Regions from separate parts of the Homo sapiens genome. Here region 1 is linked to region 2. Evidence: fine-mapped expression QTL. A gene starts in region 2. The other region holds a variant in brackets. All regions are shown on one strand. Distances are between the middles of the regions. Region 1 has its middle 73 kb from the start of SOX3. Region 2 holds the start of SOX3 (SRY-box transcription factor 3).

Evidence for each region. PIP is the estimated chance that this variant, and not a neighbour inherited with it, causes the effect.
Region 1: its variant is fine-mapped to the expression of SOX3 in tibial nerve (GTEx, PIP above 0.99).

Annotation. Positions count from the first base shown.
Region 1 is chrX:140,425,865-140,437,974 of GRCh38, forward strand. No RefSeq gene overlaps it. Among named protein-coding and RNA genes, the nearest start is that of SOX3, 73 kb to the right of the region's middle. RefSeq lists an enhancer at 11,644-12,110. The variant G/A (reference allele first, on the strand shown) is at 6,643.
Region 2 is chrX:140,498,968-140,511,077 of GRCh38, forward strand. SOX3 (SRY-box transcription factor 3) reads right to left here and starts at 6,102. Exons shown (of 1, transcript NM_005634.3): 1 at 4,018-6,102. The coding sequence starts at 6,093. The coding sequence ends at 4,753. RefSeq lists promoters at 5,835-6,543, 6,054-6,340.

The DNA.
Region 1 (12,110 bases), 73 kb before region 2:
AGATGGAAGCCATGAAAAATGTTTTCCTAATACAGGTCACAAAACTGACACCGAGGTGAGGGAGAACCTATAAATAGCGCCTGGAACATAATAGGCATTCAGTAAATATTTGTTCAAGTGAACCATAGAAGACAGGAATCATCTAGGAATACTATTGGCTAACAACAAAACACCAGATAAATATTCTCTTGAGTAAAATGTAATCTTCCTTGGGAAGAAGGACTTAATTCTAACCAAGGAAACATTAAATGGCAATTAGAATATGCAGGAACTTTGAAGGAATGCCACCATGTTACCCTGGAACTCAATATAGGAAAGAGTGAGTCATGCTGCCAGGGTTACTTGCCTGTTACTGTTACTTGCCAAGTACTGTCCCTGCTCAAGGTAATACAACTAGTAAGTGATGAGTACAGAGATTTTTAAAGCCCGAGGTTTTTGAAACTTACTAAAATCAACAACAACAACAACAAAAACATTATTTGAGAAGGTGAGAGGTTGGTTTTCTAAACAGGAATATGAGATTTTTTTAAATGGGAGAGACTTAAAATATTTATATGCTGTGCATGGAAAGGTTGAAGATACAAGAATGAAAAAATAATAATATCATGGAACAGAGAAGAGATGCTGGGTACAAGGGAAGAAATAAGCCTTCAGGAGCAATAGGATACACTTCTTTCATGAGACAAGAAGGAATGGTGTAGTTGAACAGAAATACAATGTATGGTGTATTTATTTCTCAGGAAGAAAGAGGATAGGCAGTTGAGGAAATTCTACCTGATTGCTCCAAATGTCTTTGTAAGGTAAAAAGTGAGTTAATATGAGAATGACAGTAGAGGTAATGAGGTAGTAATCTCAAAGAAAGTGATGACAGGTTGAATTATCTTTTGTGTGAACTGGGAACGATCTTAGGGATGCATAGAAGGATTGTTTGACACTATTTAGGACATGCTTGAAATTGAAGAATGTGAATTTACAGCAGTTCCAACCTGCAAGTGGTTGTATGGTTTTCTGCAGGAATATAGTTGAAGAAGGCAAAGAGTTTTGCCAAGCAGATTCAATGAATGAGAGGACATGAAAGTTGAAGTTTTCAGTAAGAGGGTGGTCAAAGGTTAAAATACTAAGGGAGAAAAGATAGGACAGACAGTAAGTAATTGGAGAAGCAAAAGGGACTGATGGTTTTAATGAAGCTAAAAACTGCTGACAATAATGGAATGAGAGAATTGGAAGGAAAATCATGTTCAGAGAATAGTTTGTGGAGTTCAGAATTCACGAGATAGAGTAATTCTCCAAGATGATAAGATTCAGGTTGTGGCCATGAGTGCATAGCTCAGGTGGAGGGGAGGAAAGGCCACTGTAGATGAAGTCAGAAGAATGAGAAGCCGAGGTACTGGGTGGATTGTCACCATGGGCATTGAAGTCCCCTATCATAAGGGCAAAGTGTGAGGTGGAGAGGAAGCCATAGAGTCAGGGATCACAGTCTCCAATGAATCTTGGGAAGTGAGCAAGAGATTGATTGATGAGAGTGGCAGGGTAGAGACATGTTTTGGAAACAGCAATTAACAGTTAAAAAAAATTTCTCCCTCTAGGCCCTCTGCTAAAAAGGCTGGGAAAGTAATCCCATTGGAGAGGCCTCAGAGGAAGCAGCATCCTCAGAGCTTTCATTGTGAGTCCCCAGGCCTATAAAGCAAAATCCCAACCACATTTAGCATGAACCAACCACATTGCCTTTTACAATCTGGTCCTAAACCCACTTTTTCAGGCCACTTCTTCCACCCACACCATGGATACCTCAGGACATGTTTTAACTGACAAAATTAGAATTTAACATTTAAGTTAGAATTTAACATTTAAATAGTATCTAATCCAACTCTTTTGAGATAGGAGGGTTTTTTGGTTTGGTTTTTTGGTTTTTAACTGCTGCATGTCTATGTGGGATGATACTTAAGTGAATTTAACAATATTCAATGGGATATTATTGTTTTTGAAAGGTGATAACAAAAGCAAATACCTCTGTATTTAAAAATATAACCCTTAAGGTAACTCAAAAGTTGGACATGCTTACAAATGAGCCCTTCTCACCGCCCCTGAATCCCTGTTGAAGCTGCAATTACTTGGCTTCAATGTATCAGTCAATCAATCATAAGCAATAACTGAGCATCTATTAAAAGCAAAGAATTGTGTTTAGGTGCTGTGGGAGTTACAGAAACATAGTAAGATACAACCCATGCTTTCATAGAGCATTCAGTGTCCTTGGAAAGAGAAGATAAACATTTGAAACAACTCATAGGACAAAATGTAATTCAGTGTCAAGGCTTGAGCTGCAGGAATTAAGAGGAAAGAAAAATCATTTGATTAGGGCATTCAAGAAAAGCTTCAAGGATAAGGCAGAACTTGACATAAGCCTATAGATTCTATACTACATATAATAATAATAATAATAATAATAATATAATAATCACCACAACAATAGTAGTAACAATAGCTATCTCTTATTGAGTGTTTTTAATATTCCAGGTACTATGCTGAGTAATCATTTAAATTCCTTTTTCTCAAGCATTTCTCACAATGCTCTAAGGTGGCTACTACTCTTATCTCCATATTAGAGCTGAGGAACCTGAAGATCAAGGAGTTTTAGTGACATGCTCAAGGTAACAAAACTAGTAAGTGGTGTACCCAGGCCTTTGTTGGGCCCTGGAACCTGTGCTTCTCACACTGCACAGTGTCCTGCTTTTCGAGAGCTTCCCAGTCATACCTGATTAAGCAACTGAGAGAAAGAACAACAATAATAGTCATCATTTATTGAATGCCTAGATTATCTCTAATCCTCCATTAAGGTAGGTATATTAGTTTGCTAGGGCTGCCACAAGAAAGTATCACAAACTAGATGACTTAAACAACATGAATGAATCGTCTCAACTCACAAAATGGGAGAAAATATTTGCAAACTATACCACTGACAAGGAATTAATAACCAGGATATATAAAGAGCTCAAACAACTCAATAGGAAAAAAATCCAATAATCTGATTTTAAAATGGGCAAAAGCTCTCAATAGACATTTTTTGAAAGAAGACATGTAAATGGTAAACAGACATATGAAAAAGTGTTCAACATCACTGATCATTAGGGAAATGCAAATCAAAACTACAATGACATATCTTCTCACCCCGGTTAAAATAGCTTACATCCAAAAGATAGGCCATAACAAATGTTGGAGAGGATGTGGAGAAATGGGAACCCTTGTACACTGTTGGTGGGAATGTAAATTAGTACAGCCACTATGGAGAACAGTATGGAGGTTCCTGAAAAAAACTAAAAATAGAGCTACCATACCATCCAGCAATCCCAGTGCTGAGTGTATACTCAAAAGGAAGGAAATCAGTATACTGAAGACGTAATTACACTCCCATGTTTATTGCAGCACTATTCACAATGGGTAAGATATGGAAGCGACCTAAGTGTCCATCAACAGATGAATGGATAAAGAAAATGTGATACATAAACACAATGGAGTACTATTCAGCTTTATGAAATCCTGTCACTTGCAACAACGTGGATGGAACAGGAGATCACTATGTTAAGTGAAATCAGCCAGACATATTAAGACAGATATCTCATGTTCTTACTTATTTGTGGGATCTAAAAATCAAAACACTTGAGCCCGTGGAGATAGACAGTAGAAGGATGTTTACCAGGGGCTGGGGAGGGTAATGGGGAGTAGAGATGAAGTGGGAATGGTTAATGGGTACCAGAATATAGTTAGGTAGAATGAATAACTAGTATTTGATAGTGTAACAGGGTGATGACAGTCAACAATGTTTTATTGTAAATTTTTAAATAACTACAAGGGTATAATTGAAATGTTTGAAACATAAAGAAATGATAAATTCTTGAGATAGGTAATGCATACCCCATTTACCCTGATACAATTATTGTACATTGCATGCTTGTATCAAAATGTCTCATGTACCCCATAAATATATACATCTACTATGTACCCATAAAATTGAAAATTAAAACATTTTTTAAAACTATAAAAGAAATTTATTATGTCACGGTTCTGGTGGCTAGAAGTGCAAGATCAAGGTGTTGGCAAGATTGATTCCTACAGAGGGCTATGAGGGAGACTCTGTTCCACTTTTCTCTTCTAGCTTCTTGTGGTTTGCTGCAATCTTTATCATTCCTGGCTTATAGATGCATCACACTCATCTCTATCTTCGTCTCCAAATGGTGTGCTCTGTGTGTGTATGTCTGTCCTTCAATTTTCCCTTTTCATAAGGACACCAGTTGTATTAATCAGAGTTCTACAGAGAAACAGAACCAATATGACATATATAGATGTGTAGATATTTGAGAGAAGATTTATTAGGGAAATTGGCTCATGTGATTATGGAGGCTGAGAAGCCCCATGATATGCCATCTGTAAGCTGAAGAACCATGAAAGCTGGTAGCTTGGCTCAGTCCAATTCTAAAGGCTGACAACCTGAGGGGTGGCTGGTGCAAGTCCTGGAGTCTGAAGCCCAGAGAACCTCGAGTTCTGATGTCCAAAGGAAGGAGAAAATGGGTGTCCCAACTCCAGAAGAAAGAGAGATCACATTTTCCTTTCTTCTACCTTTTGTTCTATCCAGACCCTTAGCTGGTTAGATGGTGCCTGCCCACATTTGGCGAGGCCAGACCTTCCTTAATCAGTCCACTGATTCAAATACTAACCTGTTTTTGAAACACTGTCACAAACATGAATGAAAAAACACATACTCAGGAATAATGCTTTACCAGCTATCTGTGTATCCTTTAATCCAATCAAGTTGACGCCCAAAACTAATCATCACACCAGTCATATTAGATGAAGGTCCACTCTAACGACTTTATTTTAACTTGATCATTTACAAAGATCCTATTTCCAAATCACATCACATTCACAGGTACTGGGGGTTAAGACCTCAACAGAAAATTTGGGGAAATAAAATTTAACCCATAATAGTAGGCATCATTATCCTCATTTTACAGATGCCAAAAAGTTAAATAACTTGTCTAAGCTCATACAGCTCCTATTGCTAGAGCTAGGGATTCAGAACTGAGTCATACTAGCTCCAAAATGTTTGTCCTCTGCCTCCCCCTGACATAAAACTGATCAGGTAGCTTTTTTGCTTAAAATCTTTCCCCTCCAATGCCAAGCCTGACTTCTAAGTAGCCCCAGGCACGGGTTCTGGGCTTGGCTTGCATGCTCTATTCTGCAAAACCCATTCCTACCCAGCTTGTGGTAATAGCTGGGCTTCTGCTCCCTTCCAAGAGCACTTCCATCTCTACATTAGACCCAAGTTTAGTAATAATGTCAGTCAGTGTACTTTCACAGACACTGCCTTATTTAATTCCTAACCTTGTGAGATGATTTTGAAGTGTCTACATTTGCCAGATTAGGAAACTGAGACTCAAAATTACTAAATAACTTGCCCAATTTTACAGAGGTCTTAAATGGCATTGCTGTGATTTGAACTCAAGCCTGTCATGCTCTAAGCAAAGTCAATGCTCCCTCTACCACACCACCCTGGACTCTGGAGTCCGCACCAAACTGGGCTAGTGCTCCTGGCATTTGAGGCCTGGGGAGAGGTTCCCTAGGACTTGACATTAAGCTCTAGCCCAGAGCCTGGGGCCCTGCTGCCTGCTGTCAGCCTACCCTGATGTCCATGCTCTGCCCATTGGAGTGCCCATCTAGAGTTGAACATGTTCCCTTTGCCCTTACTCTCCCAGAGAACAGTAGTAGTTCCATACCACAGTCCCTCCCAGGCAATTTCATTCCATTGCTATGAACTGGTTCCTGCTGGCTGTATCCCAGCATATAACACAGCTGAGCGAATGCCTAGTCTATGACCCTGTTGAGTGAATGGAGCTGTTGCTGCTACCCTCGCTGTTACCCCTGGGCACCTCTGCCCAGGCAGGAAGCACAGGAAGCTGCGGCAGTGTCAGTCTCAGCATGCTGCCTGAAAAGACGCCCTCTCTCTTGCCCTCCCCTCACCGCCCCAGAACTGAGTGCCAGATCCAAGCCAATGGGGTATTTTCTGGGATAGCATTCTAAAACAAGTACAGTATCAGCAGAGCATTCTAAAACAACTACAGTATCAGCAGGAAGGAGACAAGTTTAGGGAACTAGGGTAGGTGGAGGATGAGCCCCCAGAGTTCCTGGGCACTAGGCATCAAATAGGAGACAGGAGAAAAGAGAGATAAAGTGAGGAGAGCAACATAAAACCAGAAGAGATGAAGGAAGGTGGAGAAAGGGCTTGAAAGTTCTGCTTGAAGTCTGACTCCCAGTAACTCTGAGTTCTTTAAGGGTTTTCATGTGATCTCACTAAATGGTGTGGATCTACCAGAGCAACAGGACCACCTGGTTCCCCAGAACTTCCCAAGGCTCCAAGCATGTTCCTCACTGCCATATGGGCTGTGGCCTCCCCAAGCATGTTCTTCTCTAGGCGCCGCCTCCAGATAACAGTTTCTAACATCTGGCCTCAGTGTGAGATACCAAGGCCCTTTCACAACAGGCACATAATTTTTTCTGTAAAGACATCATGGGTCTAAAGAACTTGGGATACTTGGATCTACCACTGGACATTCCCCTGGCATGGATTCTGGCAGGAAAGACTCAGGCTGG[G/A]CGATAGTCCAGGGCAGACAGTGCTGGCTGGAGTCCCAGTTCCCTGACCTGGCCCACTGCCCTCTTTGGCTATCAGACAACGTTCACAGAGTCTGCAGACATCTGTGTGCCCATAGGAACAGCTAGGGAGCTGCAGGATCTGGAGACACAAGAGGTTCCCCTTTGTCTCCTTCTGTCCTCACTAATGGCCCTTCCCAGCACAGCAGCTGGGTGTTTGGGAAGGGAGTTGGGGGAGGGATTGGCCTCTGACCAGAGGAATACAAGGCTGCCCTTAAAGAGGTGGCCCAGCTGTTGTGAGTGAACACACAGGTGCACATTGGTGGCTTTGACCCTCACGCACACTCTGGTCCCTGGCCAAGGTAAGGGCTGTAAAATGTAGCCAGGCCAGGGTAGCCCTACCCACATTTTTGGAGGACATGCCAATTTGGCTCCCAACCCTGTGTCACTGCTAGGATGTGATCCCCAGAAGGCACAGTAATTCCCACCACATCCACTGAACTCTTGGCATTATCCAGTGAAGCTTACACATGGTATCCATCTGTCGGCATTGTCACATAACATGCCCATCCACATGGGCAGTTCTCCTTCAGTGTCTTTGGACTTCTCCATGATACTCATTTCATTTGATTACCACTTCCCTTGGGCAGCTCAGTCAGTCACACCACCCCACCCCTCATTCTCCCGACTCTTCTTTCCATTGTCTGCACCCCACTCTATCACCGTGTTTCCCAGTACACACACACAAACACACACACACACTCATAATTTGCTACAAGGCCAGTATAAGTGGATTATTTTGTGCCATACATTCTAGGGGCTATTTCTGTTTTTCAATGCCCCATGATTGAGCATGGGCATGTCCCGGTAGTTCTGTGCCTCCCCGCTCCAAGTTTTGTGGCAGATTAAGAATGAGATATCCACCCCTTTCCAACCAGTCATGGATTCAGCCCCACAGTAAAGGAAACAACCTTCAGAGGTGACCCGGTGTGGATGGCAGGGCATCTTGGTTTGGTATTGACAGAGGAGGAAACTGACCTAAGAGAGGGGTTAAGTGACTTTCTCACACAATTAGTGAAAGAAGCAGAGATTGAGCCCTGATCTGATGCTTTTTTCCCCTCTACTTTTAAACCACATTATTTCTCCAGAGACAAAGCCAACAAAAGTGTGATCCAAACACCAGTGCCAGTCTGAGAACTGTTCGTTAGTGGTCCATGACGAAATAAGGAGCTTGCGCCAGAATGTAAATCAATTCACTACTTGCTTCATCAACAATCTTGCTGTGAAAATAAAATGTCAGCTGAACTAAACAGCATGCTTAGTGATTGCTGATTTACATTGGCACAAACTCTCTAGCTCAATGCCGTCCCTGTGTCCAGCAGCCCTGGTGCTGATGACTGTCCAACATGAGGTGGGATCTACTGCAGAACTGTGCCTCACCTTTTGTGTAAGAGGAATGGGTTGTGATAGAGGCTGGAGTCACGGGTCACATGGTTATGTTTAATCACAGCCCCTCAGGACTGAAAATAGCTCTGCACAGCCAAAACTAGTTCCTGGCTGCCCGAACCCAACCCTATAGATAGGGGCTACTCAAAGACCCAGACTGCAAGCGGTTTGTTGCCTTTGTGCATGAAAGTTTCGGTGCCTATCATGTGGCTGTTCCAGTCGTGGGTCTGTTGACCCTCAAGTCCGTTTCTAGCTTTTTGCCTGCTCTGCTTTGTATGGTAGGGGGTCTAACCCCTTCAGGCTCTTTCCCAGGCTGACTTCCCGCTGGGTCTAGCCAATAGGAGGCACTCACTGGAGGAAGAAGGGGGAAAAGAAAAAAGAAGCCAGATAATTTCTTTCCCCTGCTTCTCTGTGTCCCAGAGTGACCAACTTGTCCCAGTTTGTCCAGGACTCTTCTGGTTTCAGCACTGAGAGGCCAATGTCCCAGGAAGCCGTGAAAGTATCTCTGCTTCAAGCAGTTTCTCCTTCAAGGCTGAATCTCTTCTGTGGCTCCAGCCCCTGCTGGTGGCCCCTCCTTCTCTGTCCCAGAGATTGCCACTGTGATTCTAGCTTTCACTGGGTGATCCCAGCCCCTGGCTCTGTACCACTGTCCCCTCCCTTTGTCCCTCCAGCCTATGGGTGTTAGCAGCTTCCTGCTACTACTAATGTCCAGGTTGCCTCTTCAATCCGTTTTGGTTTCTTAGGTCTTCCCTGAACTGTGTCACCAATTTCAGGCATTAAATTCTCACTGTTGTTTACACTTGAAGTGGTTTCTGTTTTACTGCTTAGATTCTGACAATAATACTTACTTTATAGTGTTATCATGAGGATTAAATTAGTTAAATAAACCACTTACAGCATTGCTTGGAACATGGTAATTGCTTGTTAAATGTGAACTGCTGTTATTATTAGTGTAGTGCGAAATAACATTTATCACACGCTTGCCACGTGCCAGGCTAATCACTTTACACCCATGATCGTATTTAAGCCTTACAACCCTTCTACCTGGATGAACGTTGTTCTTGAGCTAATTGTTTAGGCAACCTGTTTGCATTTCACACCCAGAAATTCCCAGGCTCTTCTGAACCACTCCCCTTAGTGAATTCAACCATGTTTCTTATTTACTGAGCATTCTCTCAGGCTTTCAGGACACAAATAGGAATGAAATGGTAACAGGCGATACAGTCTAGTGGGAGAGACTGGTATGTCAGCCAGTTGATTCATCCAAGCAGAGGGCAGTGAAACCCAGAGATAGCAGCAGTGTGGCAAAGTAAGGAAGAGCCTGAGCTCTGGGGTTGGGCTGCCTGGGTTTTGACCTAGGCTCTGCATCTACAAATTAATACATCTACATCCACCTATCATAAGGTAGGGAAGTCATTTTTAAACTCTATGTGCCTCAGTCTCCTCACTTGGCAAAAGTACTCTTTTTATCATACCTGTCCCAAAGGGGTTATTTTAAGGATCAATGAGTTAATATTTGTCAAGTGTTTAGAATATGCACTAAATGCAATGTCTTTCTTAAGTGAAAATAAAATTAATAAGCTGAACCAATTTTAGGGGAACCCAGAGGATGGTGTCACTTGATTCTGCCTACAAGCATTCAGGAAGGCTTCACAAAGGAGGTGACATTGGAGTGGGATCTTAAAGAAGCAGTGGAAGTTTTCCAGATAAAGAAGAAAGCATCTCAAATCATCGGAAAGGCATGTGCAAAAAAGGCACAGAGTCATGAAAAAGGCTGGTATGACTGGGGAGTAATGAGAAATGAGTAGCTGGAATTTGGTGGCAGGATATGAGGCTCAACATTTAGTTTTGGATATGTTGGACAAGATCTTGAGTGTCATGCTAAGGAATTCAGATTTAATTCAGAGGAAAGGAAGGGAGAGCCAACAAAGGACTTTAAGTTTGAGAGAGTAAAATAATCAGCTTTGTTTTGTGGGCATTTCATTCTCATGACAGTGTAAATTTAAAGCTGAAAAACCTGCTCAGGTGTAATAAAAAATATAGTAAAATCAAGTAACCCCAATTGGAACAACCTAAATGTCTATCAACAATAGGATGGATACATTGTGTGTTATATTTGCACAGTGGAACACTATGCAACAGCACTGATAATGAATTACTGCTACGTGCAAAGGACATGGATGAATCTCTCAAGCCTAGTATTGAGCAAAAAAAAAAAAAACAAAAACAAACAACCCCCCCACACACACACACAGACACACAAAAGGGTGCATCCTGTATTATTCCATTTATATAAAGTTCAAAAATAGACAACACTAATCTATGCCATTAGAAGTCAATGGTTATCTCTGAGTGAGGAATAGTGATAGAAAGGGGACCCAAGTAGGGTTTCTGGGCTGCTAGTAATGTTCTCTGTCTTGAATTTGCCCTGGGTGCTGGTTTCATAGGTGTGCTCACTTTATGATCAAATTCAAGACACAGAACACTTGCACTTTAAACCAAAAACAACATGCTTTTTAGTGACATATAGTGTACATATGCAGACAAATCACTTACTGTTTCAAAGTACAAGTGGAGAATATTCAACCCTGCAGAGATCCAACCGACCTTTGACCACAGTGGGATATGAGGATCCATGAACACAGATGTCTATTACAAAGCAGCTGCCCCAAAAGAGAGAGTTTTTCTTTTAGGTATTTCCAGGTGACCCCAATATTATGCTTCTAGATGAACTCAGCTACAATTGGTTGGTCTGCATCATCACCTGTGTTTCTGAAGTTCAAATTTCAAGGACTTTAAACATTGCCTCTAAGGAGAGACAAAGGGGACCAGGATTTGGGAAGGAAGTCAAGGGAAACTCTAGTCTTATCTATAATGGTTTAAGTCCTTACAAGGAGAAGTGTGTTTTAGTCAGGTGTTTATTGTATAGTTAACACTAAACCTGAAAAAAACCTATAGCTCTACCTAGTCATTACATGATAATGAAAAGTAGCAGATATTACTTAATCAGGATTGAAAATTACTGGACCTGGCTTATCATTATGTTAAATTAATGGCTTGCCTGTATATGTTCTTTTTTGATTGACCTTCATGTGAGAAAGGTTGATGGTGTTGGGGACAATTTGCAGATGAGAAAACTGAAGATCTGAGACATTATGTGCGTGGCTCCTGGGCAACCATTTATTAATAGTAGAAAACCACTATCATCACCCTAGTCCAAGCCACCATTATCTCATGCTTGGACAACTACATAGTTTACTAGTTGTTTCCCTAGATTTACTATGTTTCCTAATATGTTTTCTACACTGAAGCTAGAGTGATGTTTTAAGAATGCCATGTTACCCTTTGACTTTTTAATTTTTTATTCTTTTGTAGAGACAGAGTCTTGCTATCTTGTCCAGGCTGCTCTTAAACTCCTGGCCTCAAATGATCCTCCCACCTTGGCCTGCCAAAGCACTGGGATTACAGGCACCTTTTATTTACTAAACTCTTCAATGGCTTCCTAGTGATCTTAGGGTAAGGACTCAAAACATCAGCAGGACTTTGTAGGCCCATGATGGGTAGGCCCCACATGTGTATCTCTCCAGCCCCATCTCATACCATGTTCCTCCTTGTTCTTTATGCTCCAGCCACATTGAATTTTCAGTCCCAGAAACTTGCTATACCCCTTCCAACCACAGGGTCTTGGCATGTGCTGCTCCCTTTGATGTGGATGTTCTAAAATTTATTAGTTTGGCATCAGTCATTTTCCGTTCCTCCAACAAACACCTGTTAACAGGTGGACCTACCTAAGTTAGGAGCCCAATTCTCCTTGTTTCCCTTTGTGTTACTGCAGTTTGAAGCTATTTTAGTCTTTTCAAGGAAAAAATGATCCCAAAGGGACTTAAAATAACAAAGCAAGTGATTGTCAATTATGTTACTTTGAAAGGCAAATTTTGGAAAACAAAAAGCCACCCTTTGAAGAACTGTAAACATTAAAACACAATTAATAACAATAGAAGGCAATATCATCTAATGGTTTAGAA
Region 2 (12,110 bases):
ATGAAACTAACACAAACCATAATCTATTCATTCAACAAACATTTCTCAAAAGGAATCCTGGCTGAGGTTGAGCGAAGGAAGACTAAGAGGTCCAAGGAGTTGAACCCAGAGAGGTAGGTAAGAGCTGGATCAGGCAATGCTTTTGAGAGTTGGGATATTTTTTAAAGAGCAATCAATAGGAAGCCACCAGAAAGTTCTTTAAAAAGTAACAATGAAAGGATTTATGTTGGGCAAGTGGAGTGAATGTTCTAGGGATAATGGGTTGAAGCGGGCAGAGTAGAAGCAGTGAGAACAGGTAGAAGAAGGCCATGGCAGAGGTCCAACAAGAAATGACAGTAGTGGTGTGGATGAGGATGGTGACGATGGAAAGGAGAGACACAGCATGTTGTATGTATTCCACTCAGCTGGTTGGTGCTCACCTAACCTCTCCTCTGCCTGACCTGGGAACCCACCCCTGGGCTTGCTCTCTGCCCCCTTCTCAAGAGGGCAGTGAGGGTTGATTGGGCCCCTGCATTTAAGCGCCTTCTGGTTCCTCAGCGGCCCCAGCTCCCCGCAGCCCAGGCTGTTCAGCTTGGCTCCCAAGGAGGTCTTTTTCTCCAGTGAGTGGGTCTGAAGAATGACGGAGCCGCTCACTAATCTGATCCTGCTCCTGCTTACTGAGGAGGGGAATTGGCAGGGGGTTGCTCTGGTGTGCTTGTCCTGCTTGTGTTAACTGCAGGCCCCAACCTGGAGAAAAGCTAGAGGATTACTGCTCCTGGGGCTCCCTGCCCCCTCCCCATCCCAAAACAGCTGAAGGAAAGGCTTGAACTTTTCTCTTTCACAAGGAGACACAATTTTGTATTTGTGATAGGGAGAGAATATATTTTAAACCTGCCTTTTCTAGTGATAACAGGAATGCAATCCTATTAGAGAAAATTGGAAAGTATGAGAAGGATGACTAACCAGTATTCATAACACTACCCTGCATTTTTGCATGTTTCTCCAGTCGAATATACTTATTTTAAATAGTCAAGGTCATATACACTGAATATAGTTCTGTGTATCTTGCTGTTTATGCTTTGTGCTTTAAGCTTTTCCTTGTGTCATTAAAAATTTCTCTGTAAACGATTTTCATGTCTGCAAAGCAGACTTTTTAAAACATTTTACCTAACCTTTCTCCATTTGTTGGACATTTGGTCTGTTTGGAACTTTTTTGCATAAGAAGGGCTGTGATGAGTATCTTTGTTATAAATCTTTGGCTGCATTTTGGATGCGCTTCTTCAGCCCCAACCCTCACCCACTCCTAGATTTCTAGAAGGGGGATTAATGAAGGAAGTTGTATAGTCAGAAGATAGGAAAGCAAAACTCTACCTAGGGTAATTCCCACCAAAAAGTAGCTCTGCACCTATCATAGAAGCTAAAAAATGGACTAGCCATTTTCCCTCGGTAAGGACTTGATGCTTCCCACATCACATCATTCACGAAGAGGTGGCTAGTAGGAGTCTCTGTGTCAGGAATTGCCTTTCTCTAGAGGCCCCGCTGGATTATGGCTTTGAGGGGCAGCTGGGGCTGTGATTTCACTGGTTTATCTCTTGGTTTTGTGGCCGGCAGAGGAGAGAGTACCCTCCCAGGCCTGGGAGTGTGGTTCCACTGCGCCGCGGTAGAACCAGCTACGCAACCTTGAGCACCGTCATTTCCCCTTTTGGGGCCAGTTTCCTCCTATGTAAAACAAGGAAGAGGAGGGAGGAGGAATTGGAGTTTGACCAGATTTCATTATTGTTGCTGTTTAAGCAGCAGAACCCTTATTACAAATTAAACCTTATCAGAACCCCAATCTATAAAATGGATTAAGGTTCGGTTGCCCTGATAGACGTGAGTGGGGAGGAGTGGGGGAGGGGCCCCAGTTTGAAAACTCTGGCCTAGAAGATGAAAGTTTCATTCTAGTTCAGTTCCGTTCTCTTCCCTATTGCTGAAGGAAAGAAAAAAAAATCATTTTTCATCTGTATTTAAATCCTCCTAATGTGCTGATTGATGAAATCTTTTCCCTTAAGGGCAATTTGGAAATCAGACAAAGTGAAGCACAAAGCCATGGATGTTTAGAGAGAGAGTGAGCGGTATGTGAGACACACTGAAAGGGTGACCCTGGCACTTCTAAGAAGGCAGCAGCACAATGGACTCTTCGAAAGAAGCAGTGTCAGAGTTTATTCCCCTGTTGGCACCGCCTCCCACAGTGGGGGCGAATTGCTTGTTTTTACCCTCCCTTTCCTGGAGTCATTTCAGACCAAATTTGAGTCCACAATTGCTAGCAATTGGAAACCCAGAGTAACCTACGGACAGGTATTTTATTGAAGGCCAAACACGGTAAAAATATGGTGGGGGGATAGATGGGACAAAAGAGTTTCCTCTCGCCCCTGGGTTTTTGGAGCACCCGGGTTGAGGGGCCAGGGGAGATGAGGCTCACTGACCAGGCAGCTTGCAGGTTTGCTCCAATCACAGCAGCAAGGATTGAAGCACCAACCAGCCGGGAGGGGGGCGAGGTCTGTGGCCCTGGGATTGGGAGAAGGGGGAGTGGTACCAAGGCTAAGACTGAACCCGAACCCGAGCCTGGACGCGCGGCAGGACCAGGAGGAGGACTGGGTGGAGGGCAAAGCGTATGGGTCTGTAAATCAACGCCGGCCCCCTCCCACCCCATGCTGCACAGTGGGGGATGGAATGCGGGGGGTGAGGGTTGGCAGTGGAAATGTCTTAGGGGGCTGGTGCTGCCTTCCCAGGGAGACCCGACCTTTCTTGAAGAGGCGGAGTGGGTTTAGTCTCCAGGATCCGCAGTGATGTGTAAAAAGCGGGCACGACCCCCGAAGCCTCAGAAAGCCCCCTCCCCACCCCCCCACCAGGCCCTCCCCGGCCCGCAGGTGAATGACTGGCCCACACAAAGGAAGCCGGCTGGAAATGTGGAATTCGGACCAATTTACGGGAGACTCTGTCGCCTAGGGTCCCAGCGGACCTCAAGCAAAGAAACCTGTGGTCAGTAGTGGATGAGGATAAAAACAGTGCACCAGGCCAAGCTTATTGGAAAGGCTGAGTTTAGTTATTCTGGGATAGCGAGGTAACAGGATTAAAGGGATTAAGGAAATCACCTCAAACAGCTGAGGAGGGGGTAAAAAAACACTGGTTCTATTTGTTTTCTTCCTAGGCCCCAAACAGATACACTGGGGCCGTGTGGCTGGGCGCGAAACTAAAGGCCCTTCGGGGGGCACAGTGGAATGGCCAAGGGTCAGGGACTGGAGGAAAGTGGGGAGGGGGATGGAGTGGGGAGGGGGATGGAGTAGAAAGCGGGCTCGAGACTCTGGATGAAAAGGAGCCTTCTCTGGAAAACAAATAGGTGGACTGAGTTGACATGTTAAAAACAAAACGCCTGGGAGGAGTTTCGGAGATCTTTGAAAATCTAAGGAGTACTTTTTAATACCAAATCTTCCAGCGCTGAATGTTGACTCCGGCGGTTCAGCTACCAGGGTTGAAACGTATTTGTTTCCTGCTGGGGATCCCTGTAACCATTTATTTTTAATAGGATCATCGAGATTTCCGAAGGGTTTTCGTTTTGTAAATATTTCAGCTAGGCTCAAATGTCTTCCCGCCCCAGTGCACAAAGGTAAAAGTGCCCCGTTTTTGGTCGGTTTCAGCGGCCGCGCCTTTCCAGCCCCGCCTCGCGTGGCTGCGGCAGCAGACACTTTCAGCAGACGCTCACTGCGATCAACAAGTGCGCGGCCGCGGGCTCTGCGCATTAGCTACTACTGTGTGCCCGCTCTCGGGAGACGCTCCTGGAAGACTCGGAACTCTGTTCCGAGTTTCAGTTGAGAATATTGGAAGCTGGTGTATGGTGGATCACCAGTAGTTAAAAGGAAACCATTTCAGATTATGCTTGCCTCCCCCCAGGTCCCACCCCGCCCCTAGGATGGGATCTCAGTTGTAAAACCGAGTGTTGGTTCCTCCCCAACCTGCAAAAAAGTTTCAGGGCCGCAAAATTATCAGGACTCCATCATGTTGGTTATAAAATTTATTGATCTCATTTAGGAATTAAGAGTAAAAGCTTGAAAACCCTGAAACAAAGTAGCCCCTCCCCACTACCCAAACGAAATCTGAACACATTAGCGCGAAGAAATATCAAACAGATCACGGCAGAAATCACCAACTCAACATGATTGGACAGAAGCTGTCCCGCGGCCAGGGGCGGCGAGGCGGGAGACACACGCACACCTGGCTATAAATTAACATTGGCTTTAGCTGCCGCGCTGCTTGGAGCGGTCAGCGCCCCAAAAAACCACGAGGAAAACAGACGCGACACGACTGGGGGCGTAGGCGTTGCAGTTCTCCAGCTGGCCTCACCCGATACTATGTTTCTCCCATTCACTCCTTGGCTAACTGCAAACTAACAAGACAACATTTTCAAATGTAACAGAATAACCCTGGAACTCAGGAGGAGGAGTGGGGGCTGTTTTTTCTTTGCAAATAACACAGCGATTCCCAGCCTACAAAGGTGAAAGGAGCAGCGGCGTGGGGCAAGAGAGCTCTCTAGAAGTCCCATTTTCGCTGCTCCTGACTTATTTTTGCTTTTGTACAAAACCCGACAGCTACAGCAAAACTTTCAGCCCTCCCCATCATCGGTACAAGGCAACAGTCCCAGGCAAGCAAAGCTAAACAAGGCGTCCCAACTTGGGGGTGCGGGGCGGGAGTGGGGGTGGGGGTGGGGAACAAGGGTGGACGAGCGCAGGCCGGTGCTCAGATGTGGGTCAGCGGCACCGTTCCGTTGACTGCAGTCCCGGCGCCCTGGTAGTGCTGGTGCACGCCGTGCAGGCGACCGCCGGGCAGCGGAGAGGCGGCGTCGGCCGCGTCCCCGCCGGGTGGCAGGTACATGCTGATCATGTCGCGCAGGTCGCCGAGGCACGCGCGCTGAGAGTGCGATGCGATGGCGGGCGGCGGCGAGCTGGGCTCAGACTTCACTACCGAGCCCATGGGGCCCAGGCTCATGGCGGCTGCGGCCGCAGCTGCGGCCGCGGCGGTGGCGGGCTGCTGCCCGTAGGCGGCGGCCGCGGCTGCTGTGGCTGAGGGCGCCATGCCCCCGTAGCCCGAGGCGGCGGCGGCCGCGGCAGCGACGTTCATGTAGCTCTGAGCGCCGGGCGGCATCATTGGGCTGTACTGCAGGCCGGCCATGTCGTAGCGGTGCATCGGCGGCAGCGCGGGCGGCGGCGGCGGGCTGCTCATGCTCGGGGGCTGCGCGTAGCCCAGCTGCTCCTGCACCAGCGAGTACGCGCCGTTGGCCCAGCCGTTCACGTGCGTGTACGTGTCCAGGCGCTGGCCCACGCCCACCGGACTGCTGGCGGCAGCGGCTGCGGCCGCGGCAGCGGCGGCGGCGGCCGCGGCACCGGGAGGCAGGAGGCCGCTGGGCAGGGAGTACTTATCTTTCTTGAGCAGCGTCTTGGTCTTGCGGCGCGGTCGGTACTTGTAGTCCGGATACTCCTTCATGTGCACGGCGCGAAGTCGCTTGGCCTCGTCGATGAATGGTCGCTTCTCGGCGTCGGTCAGCAGTTTCCAGTCGGCGCCCAAGCGCTTGCTGATCTCAGAATTGTGCATCTTGGGGTTCTCCAGGGCCATTTTGCGCCGCTGCCCGCGGGACCATACCATGAAGGCGTTCATGGGCCGTTTCACACGGTCCTGGTCTGTACCCCCGCCACCTCCGCTCGCACCACCGCTGCTGCCGCCGCCCGAGTTCGCGCCGCCGGCTGCGTTCGCACTACTCTTGCCTGCGCCTCCCGGGGCTGCGGGGCCGCCGGTGCCCGCCGCTTGTGTGGGTGTCCCTACGGGGTTCTTGAGTTCAGTCTCCAGAAGGCTGTACATTGCCGGGGCGGGAAGAAGGTGCGCCAGCGTGGCGGGAGGAGAAGGCGCTCCCGGGGCTGGAGCGGCCACGGTGAAAAGGCCCTGGGACTCCGTCGGAGCGGAGCTTGGGGGCCTGTGGGCCAGCGAGTCCGGCGGGAAGGGTAGGCTTATCAAAATGCTCCGCGCCAAATCAGCAGGAACCCGCGGGCTTCTCGCACCTGATGAGTTCTCTCGAACAGGTCGCATTCACAGTCTGCCTGGGCTCTAGCTGGGCCCCTTATATACCTGCTCGGATTCCCCGGGGTTGGGGCTTGGTCCGCCCCTCGCAACCCGGAGGACCCGTGATTGACAGGTTCGCAGTGATGCGCCCTGGCCAATCATTACCGAGCCCCCGTTCGGCCTGGCTGGAAAAAAAAAAGTTCGGGGAGCCCTTTCGTTCACCCCACGCCCCTCTTTGGCCTAGTGACGTGGTAAGAGTTACTTAGGAGGCGGGAGTCCACGAGGCCCACTCAGAGGCCACCAATTAGGGTTTCAAAAAGTTTGAAAGAACGAAACCTGAGGAGGTGACGGGGGGAGGGGGGAGGGGGCACGCAAGCAGATTGGGGGGAGGGGGCAGAGGGGCGCCTTCGGAATTTAGAAAACAACTTTGCAACCCTGTCAAGGCAGACCGGCGCCCCATCCCCCGGCCAGCCCGCAAAGCTTCCCGTTGTCTGCACGGAGGTTTTCTGGCCGCTTCTGCTGCCAGCGCTAGGAACGCAGGGCACCACCAGCTACCCAGGCCGGCTTAGGGACTCCAGGCTCATTGGAAGTGCTCCTGGCTGCGTCTCCAAGAAGCTCTCCCTGGAATTGGCCGCTGGTTGTCCAGATCTTTCTCTAGGAGGGCCAGTGCGTCCAGGACGCAGCGTGGGTCAGGGGCCCGGGCATGGGAGACAGGCTTCAGGACTGCGGGGTGCATTCGGCTGTGAGGCTCTTGGGGGTTTGCAGGAGGGCGGGCAAGCAGTCAGTCGCCCGTCTCCTGAGCCTGTCGGAGGCGCTCGCACAAGGTGGTGTGGAAAGTATGTGTGGGACGTAGGGGGTGAACTGGCCTCCGCTCTCTCGATCCTGGCCCCCGCTTAGCGGCCCCTTTTTGTCTCTGCTCTGTGGCCATTTCGGTTTTTCCAGTCCGATGCCCCTGAGGGGGAGGGTCGGGCCCCTTGGAAAATCCGTTTTCATGGCAACACGGAGCCTCTCAGAGTGAAAGAAAAGTTTCTTGGAGGGGGGAACGTTGGCCGGAGCGGAGCCGAGGCCGTCCTCCGGGCGAACCGCCGGGCCCCCTCCACTGCCCCCGCACCTGCCGGGACCGCTGAGCGCTACTCTGGGCGCGCAGCCTCGCCGCCTCCCCCGGGAGCAGGCTCTGCTAACGGATTCCGTCCGTCTCTTTTATTGTTTTAGAGACTTCCTGAGATTCGGAGCGGGACATTCACTTGCTTGTTGGGTTATCTGCCAAAGACTAGCGGCGCGGGAACTCTGGCTGCGGGGAGAGGAAACCCCGATAATCGCCACTGCCAGCTGAAGCGAGTGGCACAGCGTTTGAAACTCTCGGAGCAGCCCGAGGTAGCGAGTGGGAATGAGAAGCCATCCCGGCAGATTTGGCAGAAACTAAAATAAGGTGTCCATACGGTGTGGGGTCTCGCCCCCCCATCATCCCTAGCCCCGTGGAAAGGTGGGGAACTAAACGGAAAGCATAATCTTAAGTGGGTGGGGGGCGCATGGGGGAATCCCAGGTTTCTAGCGTCTTAGCGTTAATGCAAGACCAGGCGATCCCGGGACTTCTGCATGCTGGGCTCTTCCCCCTTTCTCTCCACGAATTAAAAAGTACGCCTCTTCGGCTTGTTAGTGGGGTCAGGGGGGGAGTGGAGGCTCAGGGCAGGCCAGCCCCCTCTCGGCCAGGCGGACCTCTGGCAAAAGAATCCCGGCTCCCAGTCGGCATCATCTCTCGGAAGTTTGGGGTCTGGAAACTTGCCCCTTAAGTTTGTGTTCCACTTGATCTGAGTATTCTGCAGCCAAGGGCTGCAGTCAACTGGATGGGTATACGGATTTAGGGTTTTAAATGTAAGTAAACTCTCTGGAAGGCTTCTGTGTGTAGATACAGTGTGTGTGTGTGTGTGTGTGTGTGTGTGTGTGTGCGCGCGCGCGCGCGCGCGCGTAGCGAACGTGAGCTGATAAGTACGTCTCAGAAAACATAATGATTAGGCAATCCCTACCTGCACCTGTTTTCTTGGCGAAGTGGCCGACAAGGTCAAACTTTCTTAGGCAAATCCATCCTCTCCTACAGAAGCCAATGTGCAATATCTCTGCCCTCCTGCCGTCTTTCCCGCATGCCCTCTCTGGGCTTTTCTGGGCCCTGGAGGCTGTTGCTAAGTGAAGCGCGTTTTAGGAAACTACCCAACCGACGCGCGGCCTGGCGTCCAGTAGCTTCACAGATGTCAGGTTTCTTTCCAAGTTTTAGGACCCAAGTAAACGTTGCAGTGACAGCGCCTGGGCTGCATATTTCCCAAGGCAGGGGATACGGTGCTGGGCCGACACCCTCCCCGCAGCAGATTACCAGGGGAAACTAGTCACTGCTCCCAGCTGTCTGACATTTGATCACACTTAGCCCGAGGCTTAGGTGAGCTCATTTTTGCCCTACATCCTCCTGCCAGATTTACAGCAGTCTTTTGCCAGGACCAGGCACACTCTCCCAATTCTCCCGGCTTCTCGCTGAGGCCAGCTCCCTCTCGGGGGGTAGATACATAAAATCTCCGTATCTGGTGGTTCTGGGGTGATCTGCACATTCTCAAGTAAGAGCCACGCCAGATTTCCTTGGAAACTCTTGCCAGGACACTTTCTAAATACAAGCTATCATTTCAATAGACAAGCAAGGTTACCATTGCGGGCGTGGGGAGATGGGGGAAGGCTGGAAATAAATCAGTTCTTAGCCCACCTGCAGCGCAGGCTTAGCCACCAGCCCAGCGGCGCAACCTTCGCTAAGGGTCGGGAGAGGTGTCGCGACAGGTACCACAGCGCAGGAGGCCTCGGTTCCGGCTGGGGCTGCGGGAAGGCAGGGCAGCTGGCGGAGCCCCAACTCCAGTGTCTCCGACGCGCACCCTGCACCCAGCGAGGAAAGCAGAGGAACGCAGTGGGAACCAGGACCGATCCTTCAACCTCTTCAGGAGAAGAGAGCGCGCTCAGCAGCTCTCTCGCCCTCTCCAGCCTCCAAGTGCCCTTGGGCGGTTCACAGAGCTCCGGATCTGGCGCTGGGAACCCGACCAAGGCCTCCTCCCCATTCCCCCGCCCTTCCTAGAGAGCTCCCGCTCCCTCCGACTGGAGCCAGCCCTGGGGCTCCCAGAACCCAGGGCGCGACAATAGCGCCGTTTGTTGGCTTCGGTTGGAAACTTCACCCAGCGTAGCCTCTTGCCGCTTCGCCCTGCGGGGCTTGGAGGTCGCCCCAACCTTCGAAAGAGACCAAGCGGATTTGCGGCGGAGCAGATGTGATGCCTATCCTTAGAGGGCGGGTTATAGCAAAACTCCGGGACCAAGACTCTAGCGTGACTGGCCCAATGGGCTTTGGGTACATAGGGCACCCCTGCTCTGCCTTCTTCCTATTTCTAGGCTTGGCCGACATCAGGTGTCCCAAGTGCCTTATATCTGCAAAGAACACTCAGCAATTGTGCCTTAGAGCTACTGGTGGAAAGAGCAGGAAAGGAGCTGTCCCACGACTCGCGCGGAGGTATCTGCATTGATTCCTCTTCAGTAACTGCTCATAGGGGACCTTTTTCAAGGTCCCTGGCATGATTAGGACCCAACTTATTAGAAGAGGTGCCCTCAGCCGGGCGCGGTGGCTCAAGCCTGTAATACCAGCACTTTGGGAGGCCGAGGCGGGTGGATTACCTAAGGTCAGGAGCTCGAGACCAGACTGGCCTACATGGCGAAACCCCGTCTCTACTAAAAGTACAAAAATTAGCCTGGCTTGGTGGCGTGCGCCTGTAATCCCAGCTACTCAGGAGGCTGAGGCAGGAGAATCCCTTGAACCCGGGAGGCGGAGGTTGCAGTGAGCCGAGATTGCGCCACTGCACTCCAGCCAGGGCGACAAGAGCGAGAGACTCCGTCTCAAAAAAAAAAAAAAAAAAGAAAAGAAAAGAAGGAGAAGAAGAAGAAGGGTGTCCTCTGCGTGCTGGGTGGTTTGGGGCCGATGTGTGTCTGTGTCGCTTGGGGGACGGAGAGTCGGAGAGTGGGGTGGGGTGGGCGGTATTTGGGCTCGCCTGGGCCCGCTGAAGCCTGACAATAGGGTCAGCAAAGGTTGCCCTCCGGCTGTGGCCTAGCGTTCGCCTTTCAGGTTTCTCAAGTGTAGCCAAGCCCAGCTCGGGGTCTGGCTTTTAGGAAGTGAGAACAACTTATCCTGGGGACTCTCGGAGACGCCTTGATTTTCAACAGACAAACAAAACCAAAAACAAACCCGCAACAGTTTGCGTTTCTTAAAGCAGTCATTTCTATCTTTTCCCTTGAGAACACCCCTTGTCTGTTTACTCTGGCTTCTAGCCAAGATTGTGTATTTAGGCCGCTGATCGAGAGCCTTGATCAAAAAATCATAGGCTTAGGTCTATTGTAGAACCATCCCTTGTAAAAAAAAAAAAAAAAAAAGGTCAGAAAGGTCACCATCATTTCAACGGGGTGGTAGAGACAGCACCTTCCAGTTCCTGGAGCATTCAGTAGGAACCCCAGCCCCACTCCGCCAACGCGTAGCACCGTCTCCAGCGGAAGTACTCTTTCTTACAGGTCACAGAAGCAGCTGAAGACCCTAGGCTGGTGGGTGTAGATTGTAATAACTTAGTCGATGGTCTCTAAAGAAAGGTTGCTAGGAGCTGCGAGGTATGGGAAAACAAGGTCCTCGAGGTACCATAAAGTCTCCTGCGGGCTGTACAACTGTATTCTATCGTAGTTTGGTGTTGCTCTTTTTTGGGAGGGTGCGGGGGTACTTTTAAAAAAGTTTCCGCATTCAATTCACTTGGTTGGCTGAGCTGTACTTGGAAAATACACTGGGAGTCCCCTCGGCCCACACGTTGGCGCTCAGTTTCCTTCCACCCACAGAGTATTCAGGTGTTAATCACCAGCTCTCTTTTCCCTATGTGCGCAGCAACTCCAAGGAATTTGACAACCTTTGCCTTCTGCTTTTACTCGCTGACCTCACCACCCGAAAGTTGCCATTTTCCCGGAGGAAGGAAGGCTCTGCCCATGCACTGGGTCCCATTTCCAGCGGGCTTTGCTGAGCCATCGCTGTCAGCCTCTTTGCCTCTCACCCCCCTCCTACACCCGTCTTTGCCCATCCCCACAACTCTCCTCACGCGCTCAGCTCCGCAGACTGCCAAACCCCCACCCCTGCGGAGCAACTCGGGGAACTCGGCCCCCTACGTCCAGGCCTGCCCTCCCACTGGGCCTGTTGCCCTTTCCACTTCCTTTTGTGACTGCAGAGGCACAGCGCTCACCTGTACAGAGGCGAGGTGACCTGCAGGAAGCCGGGGCCAATAAAGTAATCTTAAAATCGTTATCAGTATGCAATGCTGTTTGAGTTTTTCCATGTCTCCACAATTCCATTCGGGTCCACCAGGCAAGGCAGCGCTTCTCGGGAAAGGGTGCCTGGAAAATCAGTGGACCTCCAGGCACTTCCAGCGTGACCAAGCAAAGCTATCGCCCCAACCACAGGGGGCGCAGGATGGCAGGGGGTTGGGTAGAGCATCCTGGAGAAAATTTTAAATTCGAAGGCAGCACTCAGCGGTTCCTTTTCCACTCTTTTATTTATTTCTTTGTTTTTCTTTTTATTTATCATTTTCTTTTAAGAGAGTGGAAAGCCGTGGAATTTGGTGCGCAGAATTTCTATGTTCTCTTTTCATCTCTTCAACGCCCTCATTTTTTTTTTTTTTTTTTCATTTCACTAACCTTTGTCATCCACCTGCTATGTGCTGAGTTGTGCACCAAGTACGGGACGGAGACCCTGCACTTTCCCATTCCGTATCAGATAGTGGCAATGGCTTGGGAAAGTCTCAAGAGGACTCCGGATTCGGAGAGAAAGAAATTTTCGCCTGATGCTACCCCATCCCCCTAGTTGATCTACGGAGAAATCGGGCCTCGCGAGAAGCGCAACATCTTGGACAAGGACCTGGCGTGAGCGGGGTCGCTACGCCCCGACCTGCAGGGGCCACGCTCATTCCCCAGCGCGCGCGCGCTTTCCCACGGCGGCGCAGAGTCCA